Linked DNA regions of Homo sapiens: region 1 is linked to region 2. The links come from fine-mapping of genetic effects on gene expression. A gene starts in region 2. The other region holds a variant in brackets. All regions are shown on one strand. Distances are from middle to middle.

Region 1 (8,326 bases), 820 kb after region 2:
TTAAATATTTCATCTACCTTAAAAAATCTCATGGTTTGTCATCTAACTTATTGAATTGAAAGCTTGGTTGATTTGTTTTCATTCTTTTTGTTTGAGAATAAAAGTATTTTGGGTGATCACTTTTTCTTTGAGCTGGGCTTTGGTCTTCATCCCCTGGGATTTTATATATAGTGATCTTTGTGTCTTTAATTTTTAAGTGACCTGTAATTTTAGTTACCTTTGAACAGTGCTTTTCAAATTTTTTTGTGGTTAGTTTTCTGATATTATTCTTTTGTTAAATGTTTCTAGTTTTATTCTTTTCTAGCCAGAGAAGATTCCTTGTTAATGTCCTACATTTTTTGGCATGTACTGAAATTTTCTTTATGCATTTATCCTGGTCAGTCTTTGTAAACATTCAATGCTTTCATTATAAGTTATGAAGTCCTCTACATATCTACTGAATCATATTTGTTAATTATAATTATAACTGAGTTCTCTCTCTCTTTGGGGGGCAGAGGTATGTTAATGTCAATAGGCTAGTAATTTTATCTCTTCATTTTTCTGAAAAGCTTTTTTTCCCTATGTTTTGATTCTTTACTGTTCAGTGATAAATATCTTTTTATCAATGGTATTCCTCCTTGTTTTACAAGGCAGTTATAAGCTATTCTTATATTTATTCTTCTTCTGTCATTTTATTGTGGTTTGGCAGAAAGGGGAGGTATGTACAGGAGAGGACAGGAGAGGGGAGAAGAGAGGAGCACATACTTCCCCTTCCTTCCAAATTATTTTACAAACTCAGTGCTGCAGTTCAATAATGAGCTATTTTTCCAAAAAAGTTCAGAGAGGTTTTCTGTCTGTGATCACATATCAGAAGAGTTTTTGGGGCCCTTTGTGGGGAAAAGTAGAAAATCTGTGTCACAAAATATGTCATGACTATAAGAGACTAAAAAGATGCTCCCTGAGGTATTGCTGAGTTGCAGATTTCTTTTTTTTTTTTTTTCTTTTTGAGATGGAGTCTTGCTCTGTCATGAGGCTGGAGTGCAGTGGCATGATCTCGGCTCACTGCAACCTCCGCCTTCTGGGTTCAAGCAATTCTTCTGCCTCAGCCTCCCGAGTAGCTGAGACTACAGGTGTGTACCACCATGACCAGCTAATTTTTGTATTTTTAGCAGAGACAGGCTTTCATCATGTTGGCCAGGATGGTCTCTATCTCTTACCCTTGTGATCCACCAGATGTTTTTTACATCCGCTCCTTGGATGTGGGGAGGAGGCACTGGCTGCCCGCAGGTTGCTGAGCAGGTGGGACTATGTATAGCCAGGTTAGACAGCAACTCTGTTTGAGAACCTTGGCAAGGTCAAAGCCAAAGCTGTCTCAGAGAGCTGGTCATGGGACTGATTCTAACTCTTTATGAGGACAGCCAGGGACTGCCCTCATAAATACTGAAATAGATGTAAACAGCATGGCTGTTGAGGCACAAGTAGCCCAGGAGTCCTTTTAAATGATATTTCTTTTATATTTCAAGCAGAACATTTACTCCTACTTCAGACAGTTGCATTATAATCAAATTGAATCAGCCTGTTTTATACTTTATATTTAAGGCTGATAAGTTTCATCTAATTTAGAGGTCTGGCGAGCAAAAGGAAAAGACCTGGTCACAAAGTGGTGAGTTTAGGGCACCTGGATCCCAGCAAACAACATTTCCTGGGGACTTCTATCAGTACATGGGTTCACACTTTGGTTCTACCACTTTCTACCTATGTGACCTTAAGCAACTTCACCTTCATAAGCTTATTTTCTCTTCTATAAAATAAAGGTAATAATAATGTCTACTTCAGAGGCTTTTTGTGAAGATTAAGTGCAATAATGCTTGTAAAGCGTTGAACACAATGCTTGACACATAGTAAGCACTCAATAAATATTAGCTATTACTGTTATTATCTTGCACAGTGATGAATAATGTTGCTGCAGTCCTGTGGTGGCAGCTGAGAGCCAGAATGGGTGCAGAAAGCCGCTAGTATTTGGAATTCCTTCAGCAGCCTGGTTTGTTGATGCAGTGTTAAATTAAAGCCTATTAATTCATTGTGAAAACAAGCCTTCAAAAGGGCCTGGAATTTGCAGCTTCTTCTCCTGAATTCATGCTGCATGGCACCACTTTATTTTAAGAGTAATAAATGCTAGCTCAACAGTGGAGAAAACTCCTGCTGCTGGGTTTGCTGGGTGGCCTTGCTGGGTGGTTGCTGTTGCCACCTGCTCCCTGGCTGGAAGCTGCCAAGCACTTTCCTGGCAGTGACTTGGCCCAAGGCCGCAGCCCCCAGCACTCACTGTGGATGTGAAGTGGCCACAAAAACTGGTGGTGAGCAGGTGGTGGAGACAAGACAGGTGCCTGATTAGATGGGTTCTAGGCCATCTTGAAGCAGAAGTTATAAAAAGAAAAACAAATTTTCCTGTACTAGGCTGACTCACTCCAAGGCCCAGAGATGGGCAGGGCTCTGTCAGGGCTCTGATAGCACTATCTGCAGAGCCAGGGCCCAGAAGGGATGGGCTCCAGAGCCTCTCCCTCCTGTCCTGGAGCAGGGATGAGAAAAACAAGTTTTTTCTCTTTCAGCTTCCCCGTTTCCCCTTACTATTCTCATAATTATTTTTGCAAGTTTTATAAGTTCATGTGTTTCCCTTCTGTGCAAGTTCACAAGGTATGTTTGAGTTGCAAAACTTGTCACTGTTTGACCCACTGCCTTTGTTCTGCTTCTGTAAGCTTGCTTGCCTGCCCTACGGGTTTTCTGCCATCAAACTGGCCAGTCCCCTTTTGGATGCATATATAAAAGTCAAGCCCTGTCTTTGTTCAGGGCTCAGCCTTTGGATGCTAATCCACTGGGCTGGTGCACACCTAATAAATCCTCCTGTCTCACCCATTGGTCTCTCTTGTCCCTTGATTCCTGCAACAATCTCTGGGAACATTCATTGCAGCCTCAGGAATATGCATAGTGGGTGATGGAGGAGGGGGCTAGGAGAGCCCCCAGCAAGGGGCATGAGCTGCCCTTGATTTGCTGGAGTCCAAGGCCTGTCTAGGGAAGGAGTTGGGGGTGACTGAGGGGCAGCTGATGTGCACCAGGATCTCATTAGTCCTGTGCTTTACATCGATTCACAGGGCTCAGTGGCAGGGACATGCCAAAACGCACCCAAACTCAATACACAGGGAATGTGACTCTGATCTATTTCTTCACTTAAGGGAGTCATTTCACAAACAGCAAGGGATGCCAGAAGACCTCAGAGTTCAAGAAAACTGCCTATTGTGTTTCCTAAAAATAAGAAATCACTTTGAGCCCTGCACTGTTATAGGTAAAGGCAATTTCAGAAAGCCTTTAGTTCCATTGCCCAAGTTAAAAAAGGGATAATTTGTTTTAGTTTTTATCCAATTTATACATATA[C/T]CAAATTTGAAGACCCTGATAGGTCTATGAGGCTTGTTATTGGAAACCGTCCTCCCTCTTTCTCATCCCTGGAGGCAAGAACTTTCAAGATTTTAGCCCATTCTTGTGGTATTGATCTCTTTGCTTTATATAATAATCTTGCAGCTATTTCTATATTGTGTAGTGTTGGGCACTATCTCCTGGTTTCCTACTGTGAATAAGATGGATTTAGCTCTTTTTTCTTCTCACTGCTCTTCCCCCATTCTCTTTCCTCCCAAAACATGGTGAAGATTTTGGTGAGATCACCACCAGGTTTATGTTACAATCCCTATGTAAGTGCTTTTATAGCAGGAACGTGCAGTGTCCTATGATTACTTTTTCTTTCTTTTTTTTTCCCCTTGGGACAGGGTCTCACTCTGTCACCCAGGCTGGGTGCAATGGCATGATCTCAGCTCACTGCAACCTCCACTTCTCCAGTTCAAGTGATTCTCCTGCCTCAGCCTCCTAAGTAGCTGGGATTACAGGCATGCACCACCATGCCCAGTTAATTTTTGTATTTTTAGTGGAAACGGGGTTTTACCGTATTGGCCAGGCTGGTCTCAAACTCCTGACCTCAAATGATCCACTCACCTCAGCCTCCCAAAGTGTTGGGATTGCAGGCATGAGCCACTGCACCTGGCCACGATTACTTTTCTGCATACTATGATGGCCCAGCCTTTCATCTTCCATGCAATTCATAACTGTCCTGGGTCTTTCATTTCTCTCGTTTTCTGTGGATTTTCCAATAATCCAATGCCAAGCTCTCTGCCAATTGTCTAGATTTCCCCAGAAGGTGTTCAGACAGATATACTATATGTTTCATTTTCCTGAAGAAACCCCTAACCAGCCTGTCAGAGGTGGGTGTTCTCCCAGCCTGCTGCTTAGTTGACATCTGGGACCTTCCATCACATCATTGTGGAGATTCTCTTTGCCTGTCTCCTGGGTTGGATCTCCTGTGTACTCTGTCCCCTGTATCTCTTTCTCTGTTTACCCTGCTTATTGGGGACCAACCCATCTCTGCTGTTTTCATGAGAAACAGTGCCTGGAAGATAGACTTTTGACATCTTGCATGTCTGACAATATCTTCATTTGACCTTTACACATAATTGGTAGCTTTGCTGGGTAAAGACTTATAGGTTGGTAATTATTTTCCTTTCAATGTGGATCCTTCAGTTTTGGGATTTTTAGTCAATTGTTCCTTTCATCATTTTCTCAGGTCCCCTTTCTGAAATTCCTTTTGTTTAAATATTATACCTTCTGGACATGTCTGCTAACATATTTTTCTCCTTTCCACCTTTTTGTCTTTTGGGAGATATCTCTTCACTCTATCGTCTATCCTAATGAGTTTTTCATTTCTGCATAATTTTAGAAGCTATTTGATAATTTTAGAAGTTTTTTGATGTTTATGTTATTTCATTCTTTTTTTTTAATCGGTGCCATTTTCTGTTTTTTTGAGATAGAATCTCACTTTGTCACCAGGTTGGAGTGCAGTGGCATGATCTCGGCTCACTGCAACCTCTGCTTCCTGGGTTCAAGTGGTTCTCCTGCCTCAGCCTCCCGAGTAGCTGGACTACAGGCGTGAGCCACCATGCCTGGCTAATTTTTTATATTTTTAGTAGAGATGGGGTTTCACCATGTTGGCCAGGATGGTCTTGATCTCTTGACCTCATAATCTGCCTGCTTCAGCCTCCCAAAAGGCTGGAATTACAAGCGTGAGCCACTGCGCCTGGCCTCATTATTTTTTTACAGCAATCTTTCCTCTCTGCAAACCAAAAATAAAATTCTAAGACCCCCACAGCCATCTAAAGGGACCCCTCCTCTTGGCCAAGGGCATTCCAAAGTTAAGCTGAAAAACAAGTTCAGGCCATGATGGGAAGAGGGAGCTGGACATGCCTCATTATCCCCTCTGCCCTTTTGGAATTATGGATAGAACAGACTCTGTACATCTGAGAAGAAACATTTACAGTCTATTCTCTCTGTATCCTGCTACCTGGAGTCTTTGTCTGCATGATAAAGCCTTGGTCTCCACAACCCCTTATGGTTACCCAGACATTCCTTTCTAGTGATTTTTTTTTTTTTTTTTTTTTTTGAGACAGAGTCTTGCTCTATCACCCAGGCTGGAGTGCAGTGGTGCAATCTCGGCTTACTGCAAGCTCCACCTCCTGGGTTCATGCCATTCTCCTGCCTCAGCCTCCTGAGTAGCTGGGACTACAGGTGCCCGCCACCACTCCTGGCTAGTTTTTTTTATTTTGAGTAGAGATGGGGTTTCACCATGTTAGCCAGGATGGTCTCAATCTCCTGACCTCATGATCCGCCTGCCTGAGCCTCTCAAAGTGCTGGGATTACAGGCATGAGCCTCCGCACCCAGCCATTCCTCTCTATTGAGAATAACTCTTTTGACCAATTGCCAGTCAGAAAGTCTTTGAATCCATCTATGACTTGGAAGCCCCACCCTGGTTGTCCCACATTTCCAGATGGATCCAATGTACATATTATATGTAGTGATTAATGTCTCATGTCTCCCTAAATGAATAAAACGAAGCCGTTCCCTGCCCACCTTGGGCACACGTCCTCAGGATCTCCTGAGGCTGTGTCCTTAACCTTTGCAAAATAAGCTTCCTAAATTGATTGAGACCTGTCTCAGATACTTTTGGTTTACACTACTGTGATGGATAGTTTTCTCTCTCTTTAAGTTTCCCTTTTCCTGCAAGGTCTCTGCCTCCTCCAAGCTGCTCTTTTTCCCATGCTTATTTAAGTTTCTGTCTTTCACATTAAAGTTCTCCTCAACTGTCTGGGGAGCCTTAGTTCCAGCTCATATTTGAAAGCTAACTGGAAGCTGCGCTTATGGATACAGCTTGTCAATTGTGAGCTTCACGTAGCTGGTCTCTGGGCATCTCAATGTTGGTATCTCTAGGTTTTTCCTTTGGAGATTGTCAGATGACCTGGAGATCATTTCCATGTCCTGCCTAGCAATCTGGGAGCTGAGGGCGAGAAGAAGTCTGGGAGGTGGGGTTCCGCACTGAGTCTGCAAACCTTTACTAATTCTCCCTGCTCTCTGCTGTATCTGGGGTGCTTCAGTGCCTCTATTTTTTTTCCTTTCCCTAGAGAATAGACCTTCCAGAGACTAAAGCTTCAGTTCTCTGCAGGGGTGAGGAAAAAGGGACTTGCGATCTTCTTACACAGACTCTCAACTAATGGCTTTGTTTCTGTCACATGTTAATCTACATTTCCAGCAGACTATGGTAGTGGGGGCAGGTGGTCTGAGATGTAATCCAGGTTGCCTGTTGGCTTTTCTTACTCTTGATTGAGAAGCAGATTTCTTAGTTACAGCCCTTCCAACTGCTCCTCCAGCTGCTTTCCTGCTTCCAAAATTTTGTTGTAGTTATATCCTTTCACTTACCTTTTAAAACCTAATGGGCTTATGACTTAAAAGAAATCCTTTTATTGTTATTTTAGTGAGGCTTGAGATAGAGCAGTGCTAAATGCATGTGTTTAACCTGCGCCAACTTTAACTTTTTAAAATTACAAATAATACATGTTTACTGTAGCAAAATTAGAAAATATAATTAAGAAAATAACACATAATCCCAGCACTTTGAGAAGCTGAAGCGGGTGGATCACCTGAGGTCAGGAGTTTGAGACCAGCCTGGCCAATGTGGTAAAACCCTGTCTCTACTAAAAATACAAAAATTAGCCAGGTGTGGTGGTGTGCACCTGTAGTCCCAGATACTTGGGAGGCTGAGGCAGGAGAATCACTTGAACTCGGGAGGCGGAGGTTGCAGTGAGCCAAGATCATGCCATTGCACTCCAGCTTGGGTGACAGAGGGAGACTCTGTCTCAAAAAAAAAAAAAAGAAAGAAAGAAAGAAAGAAAATAAATGTAACCACAGTAATAATGCTCTTACTTAGGAAAAATGATTGTTAATATTACAGAGGTAGGTCCTTCCATTACTTCATATATATTAATTCTTTCTCACTATATTATATATGTATGCAATGATTGGAAATCAATAAACACACTATTTTTAATCTTAATGTGAACACCTTTCCAAGTCTCTAAACATATTTCTAAAATGATTTTAATGGGGCTGGGCATGGTGGCTCATGCCCGTAATCACAGCACTTTGGAAGGCTGAGGCAGGTGGATCACCTGAGGTCGGGAGTTTGAGACCAGCCTGGCCAACATGGAGAAACCCCGTCTGTACTAAAAATACAAAATTAGCCGGGCGTGATGGTGCATGCCTGTAATCCCAGCTACTCAGGAGGCTGAGGCAGGAGAATTGCTTGAACCCGGGAGGTGGAGGTTGCGGTGAGCCGAGATTGCGCCACTGCACTTTAGCCTGGGCAACAAGAGCGAAACTCCGTCTCAAAAAAAAAAAATTATTGTAATGGTTCATATTATTTCTTGAAATATTTTACAGTGTAGTGTATTTTTGTCCAGCCCTAAGTCATTGGCTATTTGGGTTTTGTCCACTGATTTTTCAGGATCATGATAGAAACTCTAATGGACAACCCTCTAACAGCACCCCAGAATTCAGAATTCCTGACGGCGGGTTCCAGGCATCTGTATATTTTTAAAGCTCCCAAAGTTTTCTGTGATTCTTGATTATTTCCTCAGGATCAATTCCTAGAATTGCTACACCAAAAGTATACTTAGAATTCTTTTAATTCTTATTACCCAGTTGTCCCTCAGAAAGATAACGTGCATTTCACCATCAATTTGTCAGAACCTGGCTTCTTTACCTTTGCTGATACAGGTATTAGATTTTAAAATGCCTCCCAGCCGAGAGGCCCAAATGGTGCATTGCCAGTGTTTTGATTTGTGTTTCTTGGATTACTGCTGAGGCTGAGCATCTCTTCCTATTCATTGGCCGTGTATATTTCTTCATTTCTGAATGGACCTC
Region 2 (8,277 bases):
GGTAATTTTGTATTTTTTTTAGTAGAGACAGGATTTCACCATGTTGGTAAGGCTGGTCTCGAACTCCTGACCTCAGGTGATCCACCCGCCTTGGCCTCCCAAAGTGCTGGGATTACAGGCGTGAGCCACCGTGCCCAGACTTTTTTTTTTTTCTTTTGAGGCAGAATCTTACTCTGTCACCCAGGCTGGAGTGCAATGGCATGATCTCAGCTCACTGCAACCTCCGCCCCCCAGGATCAAGCAATTCTCTTACCTCAGCCTCCAGAGTAGCTGCGATTACAGGCACTTGCCACCGTGCCCAGCTAATTTTTGTATTTTTAGTAGAAACGGGGTTTCACCATGTTGGCCATGCTGGTCTTGAACTCCTGACCTCTGGTGATCCGCCTACCTCAGCCTCTCAAAGTGCTGGGATTACAGGCATGAGCCACCACTCCTGGCCTCTGTGCCCCTTCCTGACTCAAAAAATTTCAGTGGTTTGACACTGCCAGGAATTTCAGATTATTTATTTATTTATTTATTTTTTTGAGACAGAGTCTCGCTCTGTCACCCAGGCTGGAGTGCAGTGGCGCCATCTCGGCTCACTGCAAGCTCTTCCTCCTGGGTTCATGCCATTCTCCTGCCTCAGCCTCCTGAGTAGCTGGGACTACAGGCGCCCACGACCACGCCCGGCTAATTTTTTGTATTTTTAGTAGAGACGGGGTTTCACTGTGTTAGCTAGGATGGTCTTGATCTCCCGACCTCGTGATCCACCCGCCTCAGCCTCCCAAAGTGCTGGGATTACAGGCGTGAGCCACTGTGCCTGGCAGGAGTTTCAGATTCTTTAGCCTGACTCCAAGGTTCTTCCCAACAAGGGATCAAACTTTCACTGTTCCCACTATTTACCCATATTGCTCCTACAATTCCTGCCAGATGGATCCATTGATTCCTTCCTGAACATGCTTTGAATAGTTACCTCCTGCATGTTAGTGCCCTACAAGGCAGGTACCATGTGCACACCTCTCCATATCTGGAAATCATAGCCATTCTATAAACCAAACCCCTTTTCAGATGCTCCATGAAGCCCTGCTGACCACACTGGACCTTCCTAAACGCTCTATAGCACTTACAACAATCACACATACACACATACACGCATCGTTTTACTGACAGTCCTCTTCTGACATCAAATTGATAAATATCAACAACCAACTACATACAAGGCAGTAAGTATGCAGAATACAGAAAATGTGTAACACAAGGACTGTGCCTCCTCCAGAAAGAGCCAGTATCAGTGGTGGTTAATAACAAAGGTTCCAGCCGGGCGTGGTGGCTCATGCCTGTAATCCTAGCACTGTAGGAGGCCGAGATGGGCGGATCACTAGGTCTAGAGTTCGAGACCAGCCTGGCCAACATAGTGAAACCCCATCTCTACTAAAAATACAAAAATTAGCCAGGTGTGGTGGCGTGCCTGTAGTCCCAGCTACTCCGGAGGCTGAGGCAGGAGAATGGCGTAAACCTGGGAGGCAGAGCTTGCAGTGAGCCGAGATCGCGCCACTGCACTCCAGCCTGGGCGACAGAGCGAGACTCCATCTCAAAAAAAAAACAAACAAAAATTAGCCGGGCGTGGAGGCACATGCCTGTAATCCCAGCTACTTGGGAGGCTGAGGCAGGGGAATCACTTGAATCCAGGAGGCGGGGGTTGCAGTGAGCCAAGATCGCGCCATTGTACTCCAGCCTGGGCAACAAGAGCGAGACTCCGTCTCAAAAAAAAAGGCCCTGGAGTAAGTTAGATAAACTATGAGGTAAATCAGTTTCCTCATCAATAACATAGGAGCAATAACAGGGCTTGCTCTATAGAACCGTTAGAGGATTAAATGAGACAAGGCAGGCCAAATGTTTAGCACGGTGCCCAGTATGTAAGGAATACTTTACTGGCAGTAGCTTTTGTTTTTACCCAGGTGGCTATGCCACAGAAAAGAGGGCTCCTTCAAGATCCATGTCTTTTTGTTTTTGTTTTTGAGACGGAGTCTCACTCTGTCACCCAGGCTGGAGTGCAGTGGCGTGATCTCAGCTCACTGCAGCCTCCGCCTCCCTGGCTCAAGTAATTCTCCCGCCTCAGCCTCTCGAGTAGCTGGGATTACAGGCGTACATCACCACGCCTGGCTGCTTTTTGTATTTTTAGTAGAGACGGGGTTCCACCATGTTTGCCAGGCTGGTCTTGAACTCCTGACCTCAGATGATCCACCCGCCTCAGCCTCCCAAAGTGCTGGGATTACAGGCATGAGCCACCATGCCCGGCCAAGATCCATGTTTTTATACCTCTCCTAGGATCCCCAAAGAGCTTAGAATGGTGCTCTGCACTTAGGAGTGTTGACAGACACGGAAAGACCCCCCACTCACCCTCCTCCAGCCTACTAGGTCTTGCTGGGCCCCAACCCCCAGCCTCCCTAGAAAACCTCATTTGTATTCCACCGTAGCCTCTCTGGAGGCAGCAGCGGGCAGCGAGGAAGACACTCCAGCAGCTTCTTGGGGAGAAAGATCTTCAGGTGGTGGCTGTTTTCTAAAGGGAATTAGAAGGGAGGGTTTAGTGTGCTACCCTGGGGCATCCCTGTGATAGTCCAAGGGGAAAGGGCTGAAGGCAATACAGAGCACTGGGGAAAACTGAAACCTCACTAAGGAGAACAGAAAATCCAAGAATTAGAGGGCCACTAAAGCGTGGGGAGAACGAAAGGCTGTGGCCACATTGGGAACCTGGTTTGTGAACTTACCAGCAACCTCGGTGGTGTCCTTGGTATTCATGGTGAGGGCTCCAGGGGGCAAGGTCACCCCCGGCCTGAGGGGCCGGGGGGAGGGGGAGTCTGTGCTGGGAAGGGAGAGAACAAGGTCATGGCAGAAGCCCCCACATTAATCCAGGATGAGAAGTATGAGGTAGGGAGTGGGTATAGAACTGGGTCATAGTATCTGGGAAGGATGAGGAAAGGGAGGGAGGGGCTGACTGTGATGTGACAGTAGAAGAGAGAACAACACACAGTGCCCGGAGCCAATATGAGTGAGCAGACTGGACAGGAAGAGTGAGCAGGAAGAAATGGGTTGGGGTGGGGGAGCGGGGAGAAGACTGGCAGGGCTTGGGCCTCAGAGGCCCTAAACCTTGAGCTTTTGCACAGACTGGGGCTATGGTTGGGTCAGGTCCTGGGGGTTGGGACTCAGGCCATCCGGTCCTTGGAGGATGGTTTGGCAAGAGAGCCTGGATCCTGGGGGCAGGGCAGGAGATTCTACCTCCGGTAGAAGCTAGGCCTTTAGAAGACACGCCCTGAGTTCCTTCTCTGTTTGATTTTTCCAAGGGGAAGGGCAGATCTGATAACTGAACCTAACCTATTCTCTCCTCCAGGTTGGTTAGGACCTGATAGAATCTGGGCCAGACACCCAGATTCCCACCCTCAGGACAACCCACCCTCCGGCTGACAGCCCTCTCTACGTAGCTCCCTCTCCCCAAACGCCTCTGCCTCCCCTGGCCTCCAGGCCTAGCCTACCCCATCTACCGCTCTGGCTCCAGCCTGAGCCCCCCGCCCTCCTCGGGGAACAGATGGGAGCTGGCGGAGGCTCTCAGCACGGGCTCCGCCAGGTGTCCAGGATGGAGATGGGAGGAGGCCCGTCGGGCTCGGCTATGTGCAGTGAAGCTGGGGTTGGGGTAAGGACTCCGCCCCAGGGCGCAGGTGCGCAGTCCTGGCTAGGCAGCCTGCCAGGGTGCGGAGCGGGAGCGGGTCCTTGGGCTGCACTTGGGCGGCGCCGGATCGGACGCTTGGCACTCTGGGCGGCCCCCCGGCGGAGTGGTGGTCCCAGGAGAACCTCCGAGGTGGGAGGGTCCCGCCCGCATAGAGGGATGTTCTGGAGAAGCCGGGAGCAGAGTCCGCGGGCACGCGGTGGGCGAGGGACAGTGCAGGTGCCGGGTGCGGGGGTCTCCGGGACAGTCCCCGGCACGCGCTGGTCCGCCGTGGGGCCCTGCGGTGAGCGGCGCCCCCTGGCGCGGGGGAGGAGGACGGAAGCGGGAGGTGAGGGCGAACCGGGAAGAGGGACGGTGGTCCCTGGCGCGGCGCTCCGCGTCGGGACCTGGAGGAGCTGCGCCCTCTGGCGCGGGGGCGGAGAGGCGGGCGAGAGGCCCTGGCTCTTACCTCCCGGGGTCCCGCGGGTGACGGCGGCAGCGGCCATTCTACCCCACACCGACCCCCCCCAGCGCCGGCTGACAGCGGCGTCTAACGTCACTGCGCACGGGGCGGGGCCTCCCAATTAAGGGGATGAGGGTCAGGAAGGGAACCTGGGGTCAGCACACGTGGAGTTCTGGGTGGGGCGCTGGGCAGAGGGACTCGGCTTCTAGGGCTCTGAGCCAGGCCGAGGGACAGACTGCTGGGAAGTCCCCAAAAGGGCAGCAGCACTGAGGGGCAGGATTCCAGGGTCCTGGAGGCGGAAGCTCGGCCGACTGACTCCCAGTTCGAGAGAACGGGGCGGGGGCAGCCCACCAGTGCTGGAACCCGAGGGGCCGGGCGAGGAACGCTGGACTGGGAGCAGGACCCTTCTCGCCTCGGACAAGACTCCTTGTCTGGGGACCCAGCCCGACTTCATTGTAGCTGGGTCCTCGAGAAAGCGAAAGGAGCCCTCCTTCCCCATTGGCCTCTCCATCGCTGCATCCCAAGAAGAAAGACAACTCGGGCTCCACTTGCTTGCTTTTTAATAACAGAGCAGAGAGAATACAAGGCCAGGAGCGGGGCCTGGAGGAAAACAGGACTTGGGGTGCTCCTGTGAGAGCGGTGGGTTGAGATGGGAGCCCACGGGGGCTGTTAATGCCTAGTTCAGAGGATGGGAAAGGCAGTTGGAGAGACGAAGGAAGGGGAAACGCCTTCATGTCAGCAATGAGGGTGACTCTAGTGACGGAACTAGTCTTGGGTCCCTGGGGCACCACTAGCCTCTCGGCATCGGTGGTTTCTCCTTACTCTTCAGACGCTGCCAACTCCATCCCCCAGGGATTGTGAAGGGGGTTCCTTCTGGCTGTGACAGTGCTGAACGAGGCCAGAGAGTGCAGCTGCCTGGAGGCACAAGCCTCCTCCTGATCCAGGGGGCTCCAGGGAGACCAAAGCAGCTGTCAAGATGAGAGAAATTGAAAAAGAAAATGGAAAAGTAGGTCTTCTTTCCAGATTTCCTAGTACCCAAGCTTAGGTACCTCGAAGTCTCTGGTTCTCACCTACGTTATTTTTGTTTCTCTCAAATCCAGCTCTCCAGCCTGGCTCTCAGCTTCTGCATCTCCATGCAAGACCAGAGACCCACATCACTCCCTCACTCCACCCAGTTCCACTCCAACAATACCTGGGCCCTGCCAGGAGTGAGAAAACGGTCCTCTTCCTGTGGATAGGTTGCTCTCTCCTCTTCCAGATCAGGGTATTCATTGGTGCTGGGGAATCCACAGCCCTCTTCGCCAAGCACCACTGGCTCAGATGCAGCCCCAGAGCTGCCCCACTGGGCCTTCTTCAGTCTGTGGAGACTTTAGGCTGAGGAGAGAAGTGCCTGGAGGCCAGGCTTCCTGTCTCTCCATTCTTCACCTTTCTGTTCTGAAATACTTCCTGCTGGGACTCCAGGGAGTTGTCATTTGACCTTTAACCCTCCACTCCCAATTTTCTGCTCCCCTCAGACTGAAGCATATTGTCTAGGAACCCAGAGGTGACCCCAACCTCCCCACTGTCCTCCAGTTCTATGGTTTGCTTTCCTGTCTTCAGTGATCTAGTTTCCACTCCTTCCAGCTCATGTGGCTCATCCTCCTTACTGCAGTTCCCTCCTTCTTTCCATATTACAGAAATCTGTTTCAATCACACCAAAGCCCACAGCTTCCTTCCAAGCAACCTCCCCTCAAAGCTCCCCTCAAACCTCCCCTCAAAGCTGTCAACCCCTTCCTTAGCTCAAACTGTTCTGCCCCCAAATCCTGCATGACTCCCAGAACCCAGATGTCTCCCTTCCTTACTCGTTGATGATGCTCTGACGCCTTCTTAGGTCCTCCAGGTGGTAAGTGACAGCCCTCACCCGGGCGGGGACTCCCCCAAGGCCCTGCTGCTGCATTCCTTCCAAACATGGCCTCCTCTTCTTTCTTCTCCAAAGCATTTCAGGGGGTGGGAGCTGCTCAGGAGGATACAGACCAAGCTGGGAGCAACCAGTGGCTCTCTGTGCCAGAGAATGGGGAAAAAGAGCTAGAAAGAAGAACTGGCTCTCTCAAGGGAGCTTGGATTGAACTAGGTAGGGAGTCTGGGGTCTTGGGAAGACCCCTGTGATCTCGAAAACATGATGACTGATTCATAGAAAGGAAGGCCTGGTCAGTGCACTGGTTGGGGAATAACAGAGGGAAGCGGTAATAAGGAGAGCTTGGGACAGGACAGCAGTGGGTGCAATTTTAACAGAGAAATGTTAAACGGCAGAGGGTCTGTCTTACCAGCATGGGTGGAATGTGCTGCTCCTCCAGCCAAGTGGGGCTGTGAAGAACAAAAAGGGGGCTATAAGTGCAGAGGGGACATGTCCATCCATATTGCTTCTTTAATAATCTCTCCCGACCTCCTTTCTGTCATTAGGAGCTACAATGTCCACCAGCCAGTGGGAAATTAACCGCAGACTAGGGCCTATTGCTATATGGGTTTATGGTAGTTTAATCCAGTTAAGACCACATCCAGTTAGTTTCCATTTTCTCCTCTACTCACGTGGGCCTTTGATTAAGGTTCTTCCAGAAGACATCTCCATAACGCTGGGGCATGGGTCTGAGGCTCTGGGAAGGCAACCTTGGGGGTGGAGATCGGCTGACCACCCTGGAACACCTGAGGTGAGGACAAGGTAGGCTCGGGTCTGGCTCTTCCCTTACAGCAGTCTACTCATCCCAAGGATTCAGGGGCCATCTTTCCATGGGACTATAAAGCTGCCCAGGTTCCCTCGGGCCATGTCCTCTCTTAACCACTTTAGCTGAAGAAGGTGGTAAGGCCTCTGCTTTGAAAGGAAATTGAAGCTGGGTTGAGGGTGGAGATTGGCTATAGTTTGACCCTCAGATCTCACTGAGTTTAAGCTCTATATCGGGGATGTCCAATCTTTTGGCTTCCTGGGCCACATTGGAAGAAGAAAAATTGTCTTGGGCCACACATAAAGTACACTAACACTGGCCGGGCGTGGTGGCTCATGCCTGTAATCCCAGCACTTTGGGAGGCTGATGTGGGTGGATCACCTGAGGTCTGGAGTCCAAGACCAGCCTGGCCAACATGTTGAAACCCCGTCTCTACTAAAATCACAAAAAATTAGCCAGGCGTGGTGGCGGGCACCTGTAATCCCAGCTACTCGGGAGGCTGAGGCAGGAGAATCACTTGAACCCGGGAGGAGGAGGTTGCAGTGAGTCGAAATCGCGCCATTGCACTCCAGCTTGGGTGACAAGAGAGAAACTCCGTCTCAAAAAAAAAATTGCAAAAAATCTCATAATATTTTATTTTATTTATGTATTTATTGAGACCGTTTCACTCTTGTCACCCAGGCTGGAGTGCAATGGCACGATCTCGGCTCACTGCAACCTCCACCTCCCGGGTTCAAGTGATTCTCCTGCCTCAGCCTCCCGAGTAGCTGGGATTACAGGCACCCACTACCACGCCCGGCCAATTTTGTATTTTTAGTAGAGACGGGGTTTTGCCATGTTAGCCAGGCTGGTCTTGAACTCCTGACCTCAGGTGATCCACCCGCCTCGGCCTCCCAAAGTGCTGGGATTACAGGTGTGAGCCATTGTGCCCGGCCTAATCTCAACGTTTTAAGAAAGTTTATGAATTTGTGTTGGACTGCTTCAAAGCCATCCTAGGCCGCAGGTTGGACAAGCTTGCTTTATACCTCATAGTTAGAGAAGGTAATATTTAGCAAGCAGAGTTGTTAAAGAGGAAGGCCTTGGCTACTCAGGTTATATGACAGATAGGATTCATTTAGGTCAATGCAAGGATCCAGGGGAGAGAACCTCTGTTTACTTCATTTGTCTCCCCATCTCAAAAGGACTAATATCCTTGTAAATAGGAGTGTGCAGAGCTGTTTGAGAACACTGCTCGTCACTTCCAAACCCCACAGGCTGAATGATGATTGCCCTCCTGATCTCTAAGAAATGGAGTATGTTAGGGCTTAGGCCTGGGGCCCTTTATCTTCTCTGTCTTCATCTCTTCTTAGGTGATCTCACCCAGTACCATGCTGTCAATAAGCTGATGACTCCCAAATCTATATATCCAGCCCTGGTTCCTCTCTGGGCTCCACTCAACA

Alleles and levels. Positions count from the first base shown, and alleles are read on the strand shown. Sizes are in standard deviations (SD) of each study's normalised expression.
For the expression in adrenal gland of the gene that starts at base 4,300 in region 2, allele T in region 1 goes with a lower level than allele C (small effect, 0.32 SD a copy in GTEx).

The links. PIP is the estimated chance that this variant, and not a neighbour inherited with it, causes the effect.
Region 1: its variant is fine-mapped to the expression of CAMTA2-AS1 in adrenal gland (GTEx, PIP 0.95).

The regions. Positions count from the first base shown.
Region 1 is chr17:5,806,929-5,815,254 of GRCh38, forward strand. All of the region lies in intron 1 of LOC339166 (a long non-coding RNA gene), which reads left to right. Among named protein-coding and RNA genes, the nearest start is that of NLRP1, 230 kb to the left of the region's middle. The variant C/T (reference allele first, on the strand shown) is at 3,406.
Region 2 is chr17:4,983,445-4,991,721 of GRCh38, forward strand. It overlaps CAMTA2-AS1 (CAMTA2 antisense RNA 1), which reads left to right and starts at 4,300. Exons shown (of 3, transcript NR_187235.1): 1 at 4,300-4,781; 2 at 4,972-5,148; 3 at 5,243-6,501. CAMTA2 (calmodulin binding transcription activator 2) reads right to left here and starts at 4,231. Exons shown (of 23, transcript NM_015099.4): 1 at 4,149-4,231; 2 at 2,748-2,842; 3 at 2,436-2,539. The coding sequence starts at 2,778. INCA1 (inhibitor of CDK, cyclin A1 interacting protein 1) reads right to left here. Exons shown (of 7, transcript NM_001394789.1): 3 at 6,708-6,821; 4 at 6,446-6,485; 5 at 5,984-6,180; 6 at 5,335-5,500; 7 at 4,686-5,110. The coding sequence ends at 4,961. RefSeq lists a silencer at 3,711-4,250.